Linked DNA regions of Homo sapiens: region 1 is linked to region 2. The links come from fine-mapping of genetic effects on plasma protein levels. A gene starts in region 2. The other region holds a variant in brackets. All regions are shown on one strand. Distances are between the middles of the regions.

Region 1 (5,376 bases), 1.3 Mb before region 2:
ATGAATACATCTGGAGATCTAATGTATAGCATGGTGACCACAGTTAATAATACTGCATTGTATACTTAAAATGAGCTAAGAGAGTAGATCTTAAGTGTTCTCACTACAAAAAAAAGTTAATTACGTAAGATGATAAATATGTTCATTAGCTTGATTGTGGTAATCATTTCCCAATGTGTACACACATCAAAACACCATGTTTTGCACCTTAAAAATATACAGTTGTTATTTGTAAATTATGCCTCAATAAGGCTGGGGGAAATAAATCAGGGGTGAGGCCATAAGCAATGAACAGGAAATATCCCATTTGACTGGCATTAGAAGAAGATAGTGTCACCTGACAATGGTTTAAATTTGCCACTCTCACTTCCAGGCTGTAGTAATTTCTGATGCTAGACCCTCAAATTCTCCCTCTACCTGGGCCAAAGCAACTAGTAACTTTCCAGACAGTGGTTGATCTGTCAGCCTGGGCCCCAGAGTGAGGAAAATGTGGAGCAGAAATGCCAGCCAGGACAAAATAAACACACAGTAACAACATGAAATAAATATTTGTTACTACATTTTAATCCACTGAGATTTGGAAGTTAACATTATTGAAACAACCTAGGTCATGCTGGTTGCGCAATCTCTCATTCTCCAATTATCTTCCTCCTCCTATGTTCCCTCATAAAAGGTGCTCCCAGGCATGCAGGCCTATCATCTTTATTACATTTTTCCCTCCTCCCCATGTCTCTCATCAATCACTAGATTCTATTGATAAATCTTCCAAATTGGTTCTGACAACACTGCGCTGTCTTTTTCATTTCCAAAGTAACTTTCACCATGGTTCTCATCATCTATCACCAATAATGAAGCTATATTTATATCTGGTCTCTAATCTTCAATCACTTATTGTGCAGCCAACATATCCACCTTACTTCAGCACATTTAACATGCATCGTACACAATGGACATTAAGTCATTCAACTACTTGGAACTTTCAGTGTTTTGTTACTGCTAATTAAAAATTCAAAATTTTTAGTTAGAGAATCAAGGCTTTCTATACCATATTCCCAAACTAACTGCTCAGCTATAATTAGTACTCAAATTTATATCTTTTATATATCAGGGGGCTTTTCAATGGAGGCTCTTGAGCTTTTGGAAGAATGTGAATATTGATCACAATCAGTTTTTTAAAAGACTCCACAAATTCAAAGCTCTATAAATGTGCCTACATATTACATGTGAAACTGATAGTATCCAACCATCCATAGAAAAGGCTTCAAAGCTGTGTCCTTTAAGACTCAGACAAAATAAGAAGATGATTCTCCTTGTTAAATCATGACACAAAGCAGCTATAGCAAAGCTCAAACTTAGGAAGTTAATGTTCTATCTTGACATATCTCAACCTCACTGATTTTCTTCACAAGAACTGTCAGTATTTTAAAATATCTTCACTCTGTTTATCAGATTTTCTAGAACTATAACAGTGGCAACTCATTATCAGAGGTGGAGAACTCAGACCTTTCTCTCATTAATCAGTCAACTCAACATGTATTTCATAAGCACATAACACACGCAAGGGACCATGTCTTTTCATATTTGTATCCAAAGCAAGTAGCATCTTGCAAAGAATGACCGTATTAGTCTGTTCTCATGCTGCTGATAAAGACATACCTGAGACTAGGCAATTTACAAAGGAATTAGGCTTAATGGAGAACTCATACCTACACATGACTGGAGAAGCCTCACAATCAAGGCAGAAGGCAAGGAGGAGCAAGTCACATTTTGGATGGATGGCAGCAAGGCAAAAAGAGCTTGTGCATAGAAACTCCCATTTTTAAAACCATCAGATCTCATGAGACTCATTCACTGTCATGAGAACAGCGCAGGAAAATCTGCCCCCATAATTCAATCACTTCCCACTGGGTTCCTCCCATGACATGTGGGAATTGTGGGAGTTAGAATTCAAGATGAGATTTGGTTGGGGACACAGCTAAACCATATCAATGACCAATAAATAAATTCTGATTAATTGCTAAGCTCTGGGTAACACAAGTTGAATTACTCATAGGCCCTACACACAGAGACTCAAATATTTGGGAGAAACAGTAAAAACTACCCACAATGCAAGTCAAAATGGAAATACAAGCATTAAAAATGGAAATACAAGCATTATAAGAGCCTGGAACAAAAAATATATATATATTCTAATTGTGAGAATCCAGGAAAGTTTAAAAGAGAATGTTGCATTTGAGCAATGCCTTCAATATTTTTTTAACTGTAAAAAAATATAGAGAAAGCATTGCAAGTTGAGAGATCAGTATAGCCATATAAGGAAATCTGGAATTATCTAACATTATTAGGAAATAGAAAATATGACAGAATACTAGGTCAGAATACACACAGTGGAGTAGTGGGAGAATTGGCTGAAGAGGTAACCTGAGGTGCTAGCATAAAC[T/G]GCTTTGAATGCCAAACACTTTTGAATTTAATTTTTTAAGCAACTGAACACAGAGCATAGGATAGTAAAAATAGTCTAATATATTTTAGGGAGATAGTTCTGATGGCAGTATCCATTATTGATAATATTTTGAAAGTTATCTCACAGGAGGCTAAATTTTCCTAATGACAATATGTTCACTGTTCATTCTTTCAAGGGCACCTGAATATTTTTCAGAACATTTTGCTCTCCTAGAATGTATCTGGATGGCATTGTAAGGGTGAGCACTTAAGTGCATTTTAATCACATAGTCCTATGTTGCATGCAATTTGGTTCACTTTGTGTAAAATATTTTATGAGAGTTGATAAGAGGCAGATAATCTCACCTCTATTCAACAGGTCTGAATCATTTAAAATGATTAAGGATTAAGAAGTCATTCAATTGTTTCAGTGGATTAAATAGTTCAAGGATGATAGTTACTGCTTTATCAACAGTTTTCCCATTAATCTGTTGTTCCTATGCTCAGCAATGTTCTCTCAAGGCCAAAACCATCTCTTTTGGGTTGGTGAATATAAGCGCCCTCCATTTTTGGCAGCTTTGATCTCAAGCTTCACTGTGATGAGCCCAGCTGTTCACAAAGCTATTTTCATGCTTGCCAGCTTAATATCCTGCAGCACAGCAGTGCAGTGAAGTGAAGAAGGTCCCTTTCTGATTACAGGTATGCAACAAGAGTTAATTATTAGAAATGCTTTCTGATAATACTCAACTGAAATAACAATCTCAAATGATGAAATTTATGAGCAAAAGCTACATTTCTTTCAACATATCTGCAGACAGAGAACAGAGAGTGGTAGCAGGGAAGAATAATTTCTTGTAGTTTCCTAGAGGTGGATATCATAAATCACAGGAAACATTAATTATCCTCTAGCTCCATGAGAATATGGGTCAAGACTCCACAAAGATACAATGAACCAAAAGCCTCAAACCTCATCAGTTTTTTCCGCTTTTATGACTTTTCTAAAAGGTAAGTACAATGTCAAAAAGAATACACCATTTTATAAAAACCACATATGATCTGATTGAGAAAGCTGCATAAAACAATTCAAAATCTCTCAATCAATGTGACATTTAACTTAGCAGATATGGTAGAGAAGAGTAATTAATTGCTTAATCATTTGCAAAAGGACATGTACTTGGATGGAAGAATTTTTGGCAACATTTAAGTAAAAGACACATTAAAAATGGCTGTTCCAATGCCTTTTCCTCTCAAGGAGCAAGACTGCCATTTTAACACCACATTTACTTATTATGATCACATCTAATTCTGCTCTTGTATATGTAAACAAAAGCATTTCTTAGCCTTACTATTTTTAGATTCATGGAAATTTCTTTAGAAAGGACATTTTCAAATAACTTTCAAAAGTTCACCATTATCATAAAGATAACATCTGACTATTAGGTACATAGTAGCCTTACCTGCTTCCATTACTACCATAGACACGCTTTGCCCAGTATTGATTTAATTGATTAAATTCTCAGTGATAGGGACAATGAAGTCCAGGCTGAGGTGGTCTCAGATGGAGATGAGGAACTTGTTGGGAATTGGAGCAAAGGTCTCTCTTGCTATGCTTTAGCAAAGAGACTGGTGGCATTTTGACCCTGCCATAGAGAACTGTGGAACTTTGAACTCAAGAAAGAAGATATAGGGTAATCTGGCAGAAGAAATTTCTTAGTGACAAAGCACAGAGCATTCAAAAGGAAGCAAAGCATAAACGTTTGAAAAATTTGCAGCCTGATGATGCAATATGAAAGAAAAGCCCATTTTCTGGGGAGAAATTCCAGCTGGCTGCAGAAATTTGTATAACTAACAAGGAGTGAAATATTAATCAGCAAGACAGTAAGGAAAATGTCTCCAGGGCATGTCAGAGACCTTCACAGCAGCCCCTCCCATCACAAGCCAGGAGGCCCAGGAGGGAAAATGGTTTTGTGGGCCAGACCCAGGGCCCCACTGCTCTATGCAGCCTCGGGACACAGTGCCCTGTGTTCCATGTGCTTCAACTCCAGCCATGGCTAAAAGGGGCCAAGGTACAGCTTGGGCCATTGCTTCAGAGAGCGAAAGCCCCAAGCCTTGGCAGCTTTCATGTGGTCTTCTGTGGGTGCACAGAAGTCGAGAATTGAGGTTTGGGAACCTCTGCCTAGATTTCAGAGGATGTATGGAAATTCCTGGATGTCCAGGCAGATGTTTGCTGCAGGGGTGGAACCCTCATGGAGAACCTCTGCTACAGCAGTGCAGAAGGGAAATGTGGGGTTGGAGCCCCCACAAGAGTCCCCACTGGGGACTCTCACTAGACCACTCACAGACCACTCACTAGAGGGTCTGTGAAAAGAGGGTCACCATCCTCCAGACCCCAGAATGGTACATCCATCAACAGCTTGCACCTTGCAACTGGAAAAGCCACAGGCACTCAATGCCAGCCTGTGAAAACAGCCAGGAGTGGGGCTGTACCCTACAAAGCCACAGGGACAGAGCTGCCCAAGGTTGTGGGAGCCTACCTCTTGCATCAGTGTGACCGGGATGTAAGACATGGAATCAAAAGAGATCATTTTGGAACTTTAAGTTTTACTGACTGCCCTGTTGGATTTCAGACTTGCAGGGGGCTTGTAGCCCCTTTGTTTGGGCTACTTTCTCCCATTTGGAATGGTCATATTTACCCAATGCCTGTACACCCATTGTATCTAGGAAGTAACTAACTTGCTTTTGATTTTACAGGCTCATACATGAAAGGTTCTTGTCTTTTCTCAGATGAGACTTTGGACTTGGACTTTTTGGTTAATGCTGAAATGAGTTAAGACTTTGGGGACTGTTGGAAGGGCATGATTGTGTTTTGAAATGTGAGGACATGAGATTTGGGAGGGGCCAGGGATGGAATGACATGGTTTGGTTCTGTGTCCCCAC
Region 2 (5,344 bases):
TATGAGTGTGGGCCTTGTGCTCCCTGTCCCCCACCCCATGGGACCACCAGAAGTGAGCTCTCCGAGTGCAAGGGGCCTGTGAGGTGCGTACTCCGCAGCAAACCCTCCCGGAAGCTTGGCTGAATAGATGCAGAGACCACATGTGGTTGAGGGTTAACCACCCTCAGATCCTCCCAGGCCTCCCTGGCACTCCCCAGTGCCAGGAACCTGGGAATACCAAGAGGCCAAACTGGAATTGGAGCTTGGCGAGGGCAGCTTCCCTTTTTGAGGTGTACATTTGGGGACCGAGACAGAGGGGATGCACGTGGGGACAGAATGGGGCTGAAACCGCAGAAGCCAGAGATGTTGCTTCATATGTCTGGTGTGGCCTGGAGTGACAAGGGAAGGACAAACCACTCATGGTGCCATGCGGTACCAGGATCTCCTGTCGGTGATGCAGGACCCAGGAGCCCTGACTCAGGTGGAGGCCGGACTCCCTACCTCACCACGTGTGTCCAGAAGGTTGCCCTCTGCGGCTAGGGCTGGGCAAGGGGCAGCTGTCCCTGGAAACTCCAGCAGGCCTCGCTCCTCTGCCCAGTTTGGGCTTCAGAAATCTCCCCTAGCACTGGGCAGAGGAGAAATTGAAGGATTGTCTCTTCCCTGGGAGGATCTCCCACAGAGTTTCCTGGGGCAGGCAACAGTTTCCTCGGTGAGGCAGTGGCCATTAACCCATTGTACAGATGCAGGGGTTGAGGCTCAGGGAGGAGGGACTTTCCTAGGCTTCAGGGATTGGTGGTGGCTGGGTAAGGGCAAGAGCCCAAGCCTGGGGCATAGAGATGCCTGGATGGCAGGATCTGCTGGGGAAACTCTGCCTTCAGCCCAGACTTCCCTGGGACAGTCACAGGCCACTCCAGCCTACCTGCGAACACCTGGCAGGCATCTCTCTTTACAGCTGCCTTGAGGGGACAAGCACGCTGGGTCCACCCCCTGCTGGTCCAGCCAGGTGATCAGCATTTCCCAACTTCCTGACCCCAAGACAATGGAAAATGCTAGGATAGCAGGAACAGATATGGGTTCAAATTCTGGTTCTGCGGTCACTGATTGTGTGGACTGGGCTGACCACTGGTCTCCCAGATCTCAGGTCCCCAGAGATAACAAGAACCCTCATCAAGGGTTGGACAGGTCAAAGAAGGATCAGATCAGCCCCAAAGCCTGTGCGGGGGTGCCATGGTACCGAAGGGACTTTGAGGCCCATTTCCTTCCCCTTGTGATAATGTCTCTCGTGATAAGGATCCTGGAGTGACTCAAGCCCCTGTTTCCTACAGAGCCTGTGGGGTGGACACGCATAGGAAACTCCTTCCAGAGGGTTTTCTCCTGTCTCTGTAGGAAGGGGGGCCCCAGAGGGGTCATACCACCCATCGTGGTCCCCGCCTCTGCCCTGCCACAGCCCCATCGGAGCCCCTGAGTCAGCATGGCTGGCTATCGGTTGACACTGTTTAAAATACAGTGCAATCTAGGAATGCCTGCCTGTGTCATGGCCTCAGCCCTGATGTCATCTTTCCATGAGAAAGATGTGTGGCTGCCCACAAACCTCATCACCAAACCCATGGATTTCTGTCCTGTTTGTGCTGACTTGGGCACCTGCAGGCCACCACTGCCGAAATGGATTTCTTATTATGACTCTTGCTTTCCTCCTTTCCTTCCCTCCTAGGCCCTTGGCCACTGGCCTGTTACTTGCCCATCTGTTATGTCCCAGCCCTTAAACACAGCTTTGCTGGCCCTCAGCTCTTCTTCCTGAATAACTTCCGTGGCCTCAGCTACCACACAGACATGTACCGCTGCCAGATCTGTCTCCTGTACATGCAGACTCTGAAACTCCAAAACTTCCCGTGGGCCTCACGCTCTGAAGATCTGCTCCTTTGTCCCCTGGGTCCTCACCTTAGCCATGTGGACAGTGATTCTAACTCCTCTTACTCACATTCAAAGCACACTTTGGTGGGGGGGGAGGGGGGTGAGTAGACTAATCTTGCTCCTCCATGGATGGGGTTAAAAAGTCCTTGGAGGCAGGACCCTGACCGTTTTTGTCATCCTTATGTCCCTTTTCCCTGCTGGGAACCTAGTAGATGCTCAAAAAATAATGAATGACTGAGTGACTTCACTATAGCACCAAGTCCTGTTGAGATTCTACCTCCTCAATCTCTCTGGAGTCTGCCTGCTGTTCCTTATACCCATTCCTAAAACCCCAGGGCTCCCTGTGCCCAGAACATTCTCCCCTGTCCTCTCCTGCCCCTCTCCTTCCAACCCAACGTACCCACCTGACTTCTAGCCTTTCAGCCTGGGCTTGCAGGCAGGATCTCTAGTGAAGCTCTCTGGTCCCCTTGGATCCCCAAGCTAGAGAAGGTGGCCCTCTGGGATCCCTCAGCTCTGGACTTCCCCCTGCCGAGTCAAGGTCACACCATGGGAGGGTCCATTGCAGTCTGTTTCCTACCAGACTGGGAGCCTCAAGGGCCAAATGTGAGGGCCAGTGGGAGGGTCCCGTTTACCTCCCCAGAACAGGTCCTGGTGTGGATTGGAAAGACTTGTTGACTGACTGTCTGAGCTATGACAACTCATTTCTAGGAGGAAAGTGACCTTCTCTCCCAGATGGGTCATACAGGCTCTCTGCCTCCCTGGCCATCAGCTGAACCACTATCTATGGCTCCCTTCCCTGCCCTCCAGCCTCCAGGGTGCTATCCAACACATGTGATATCTACATGTAGTATCCATGTCCTCATCTCTCCCCCGAGAGCTCCCTGGAAAGAGCTGAGCCAAGGCCTTGCAAAAAAGGTGGAGAAAGGGCCAGGGCCTGGACATTTCATGTTCCCACCCCAGCCTGGCCACTAGGAGTGTTCTACGCAGGCTCAGATGGATGGGGCTGGCCTCACAGTGGGGTCTGGAGGACTAAGGTTTGGTTTCTCTATGCAAGGTCAGAAAAACTCCCACAGTACAGGGAAACTGGCCAGGGCTGCAGACTCAGACCACAGTGCTAAAGCCATGAACTCCACCTGCTCTCTGAAGGCTCGCCAACCTGAGTCCAGCAGAATGTTCTCGCTTGTGTCCAACCCCACTGGTTTAGGCTGAATCAGCCTCTAGGGCCCAGAGGCACTGCACCTGGAGTAGGGAGCTTCTCCAGTATCAGAGTCACCTTCAGAGGCCTGGAGCCTTTCATAAAGCAGGTAAGAGGACTCAATAGATGCATCTGCATGGAAAACATCCTCCCCTCTACCAGGCACCTGTATGTACAACCAATCACAGCAGCACACATACACCCAGAAATGGGCACGTGTGGGCCCACACCCCTTTAGCTATGAAACCCAGGCATGGGGCAGCTTGAGCCAGATACCTTGTGCAAACACAAACTCGTGCTGTCTTCTCTGAACTCCATTGTGAAAATCAAACACTTGTCAGCCCCTCAAGAGCCTTTAGATTTCCTACTTCCACACTTCCACAGAAAGGCCTCTGGAGTTGGGGGATGCTGGGGTTATGTAGGAAATTAAGCCTGGAGGGCCTTGCTGGGGAAGCCATTGTCCCTGTACCTGAGATGGATGCAGCCACAGCCCTGGAGCCAGCCTGAAGCTCCTGGTGTCTTCTGGGGGCTACATATAGGAGTGTAGTCCGAACCTCAGAGGGGCAAACCTGCTCTGCAGAGGGAATCAAGGTTCACATAACCAGAGAGGGGAGTCACTCAGGAAGGTGGCTCCAGAGCCAAGAGTCAGACTCTGGGTCCCGACTTGACCCAGCCACACCCCCTCTGAAGCTTGCTGAGAGTGGCTGCAGTCTCGCTGCTGGATGTGCACATGGTGGTCATTCCCTCTGCTCACAGGGGCAGGGGTCCCCCCTTACTGGACTGAGGTTGCCCCCTGCTCCAGGTCCTGGGTGGGAGCCCATGTGAACTGTCAGTGGGGCAGGTCTGTGAGAGCTCCCCTCACACTCAAGTCTCTCACAGTGGCCAGAGAAGAGGAAGGCTGGAGTCAGAATGAGGCACCAGGGCGGGCATAGCCTGCCCAAAGGCCCCTGGGATTACAGGCAGGATGGGGAGCCCTATCTAAGTGTCTCCCACGCCCCACCCCAGCCATTCCAGGCCAGGAAGTCCAAACTGTGCCCCTCAGAGGGAGGGGGCAGCCTCAGGCCCATTCAGACTGCCCAGGGAGGGCTGGAGAGCCCTCAGGAAGGCGGGTGGGTGGGCTGTCGGTTCTTGGAAAGGTTCATTAATGAAAACCCCCAAGCCTGACCACCTAGGGAAAAGGCTCACCGTTCCCATGTGTGGCTGATAAGGGCCAGGAGATTCCACAGTTCAGGTAGTTCCCCCGCCTCCCTGGCATTTTGTGGTCACCATTAATCATTTCCTCTGTGTATTTAAGAGCTCTTTTGCCAGTGAGCCCAGTACACAGAGAGAAAGGCTAAAGTTCTCTGGAGGATGTGGCTGCAGAGCCTGCTGCTCTTGGGCACTGTGGCCTGCAGCATCTCTGCACCCGCCCGCTCGCCCAGCCCCAGCACGCAGCCCTGGGAGCATGTGAATGCCATCCAGGAGGCCCGGCGTCTCCTGAACCTGAGTAGAGACACTGCTGCTGAGATGGTAAGTGAGAGAATGTGGGCCTGTGCCTAGGCCACCCAGCTGGCCCCTGACTGGCCACGCCTGTCAGCTTGATAACATGACATTTTCCTTTTCTACAGAATGAAACAGTAGAAGTCATCTCAGAAATGTTTGACCTCCAGGTAAGATGCTTCTCTCTGACATAGCTTTCCAGAAGCCCCTGCCCTGGGGTGGAGGTGGGGACTCCATTTTAGATGGCACCACACAGGGTTGTCCACTTTCTCTCCAGTCAGCTGGCTGCAGGAGGAGGGGGTAGCAACTGGGTGCTCAAGAGGCTGCTGGCCGTGCCCCTATGGCAGTCACATGAGCTCCTTTATCAGCTGAGCGGCCATGGGCAGACCTAGCATTCAATGGCCAGGAGTCACCAGGGGACAGGTGGTAAAGTGGGGGTCACTTCATGAGACAGGAGCTGTGGGTTTGGGGCGCTCACTGTGCCCCGAGACCAAGTCCTGTTGAGACAGTGCTGACTACAGAGAGGCACAGAGGGGTTTCAGGAACAACCCTTGCCCACCCAGCAGGTCCAGGTGAGGCCCCACCCCCCTCTCCCTGAATGATGGGGTGAGAGTCACCTCCTTCCCTAAGGCTGGGCTCCTCTCCAGGTGCCGCTGAGGGTGGCCTGGGCGGGGCAGTGAGAAGGGCAGGTTCGTGCCTGCCATGGACAGGGCAGGGTCTATGACTGGACCCAGCCTGTGCCCCTCCCAAGCCCTACTCCTGGGGGCTGGGGGCAGCAGC

Direction of the effects. Alleles are on the strand shown, and positions count from the first base shown. The strength of an association depends on the size of the effect and on how common the allele is.
In carriers of allele G in region 1, the plasma level of the protein whose gene starts at base 4,401 in region 2 tends to be higher than with T alone (moderate association).

Evidence for each region. A credible set is the group of variants that fine-mapping cannot tell apart. PIP is the posterior inclusion probability: the model's chance that the variant is causal. Protein levels are from antibody-based Olink assays in UK Biobank. Linkage for the fine-mapping came from a reference panel and not from the study's own genotypes, which makes the PIPs less certain.
Region 1: its variant is the best candidate, but not a certain one, in a credible set for the plasma level of the CSF2 protein (UK Biobank, PIP 0.62).

The regions. Positions count from the first base shown.
Region 1 is chr5:130,801,541-130,806,916 of GRCh38, forward strand. All of the region lies in intron 3 of LOC107986449 (a long non-coding RNA gene), which reads right to left. Among named protein-coding and RNA genes, the nearest start is that of HINT1, 360 kb to the right of the region's middle. The variant T/G (reference allele first, on the strand shown) is at 2,441.
Region 2 is chr5:132,069,389-132,074,732 of GRCh38, forward strand. It overlaps CSF2 (colony stimulating factor 2), which reads left to right and starts at 4,401. Exons shown (of 4, transcript NM_000758.4): 1 at 4,401-4,594; 2 at 4,693-4,734. The coding sequence starts at 4,436.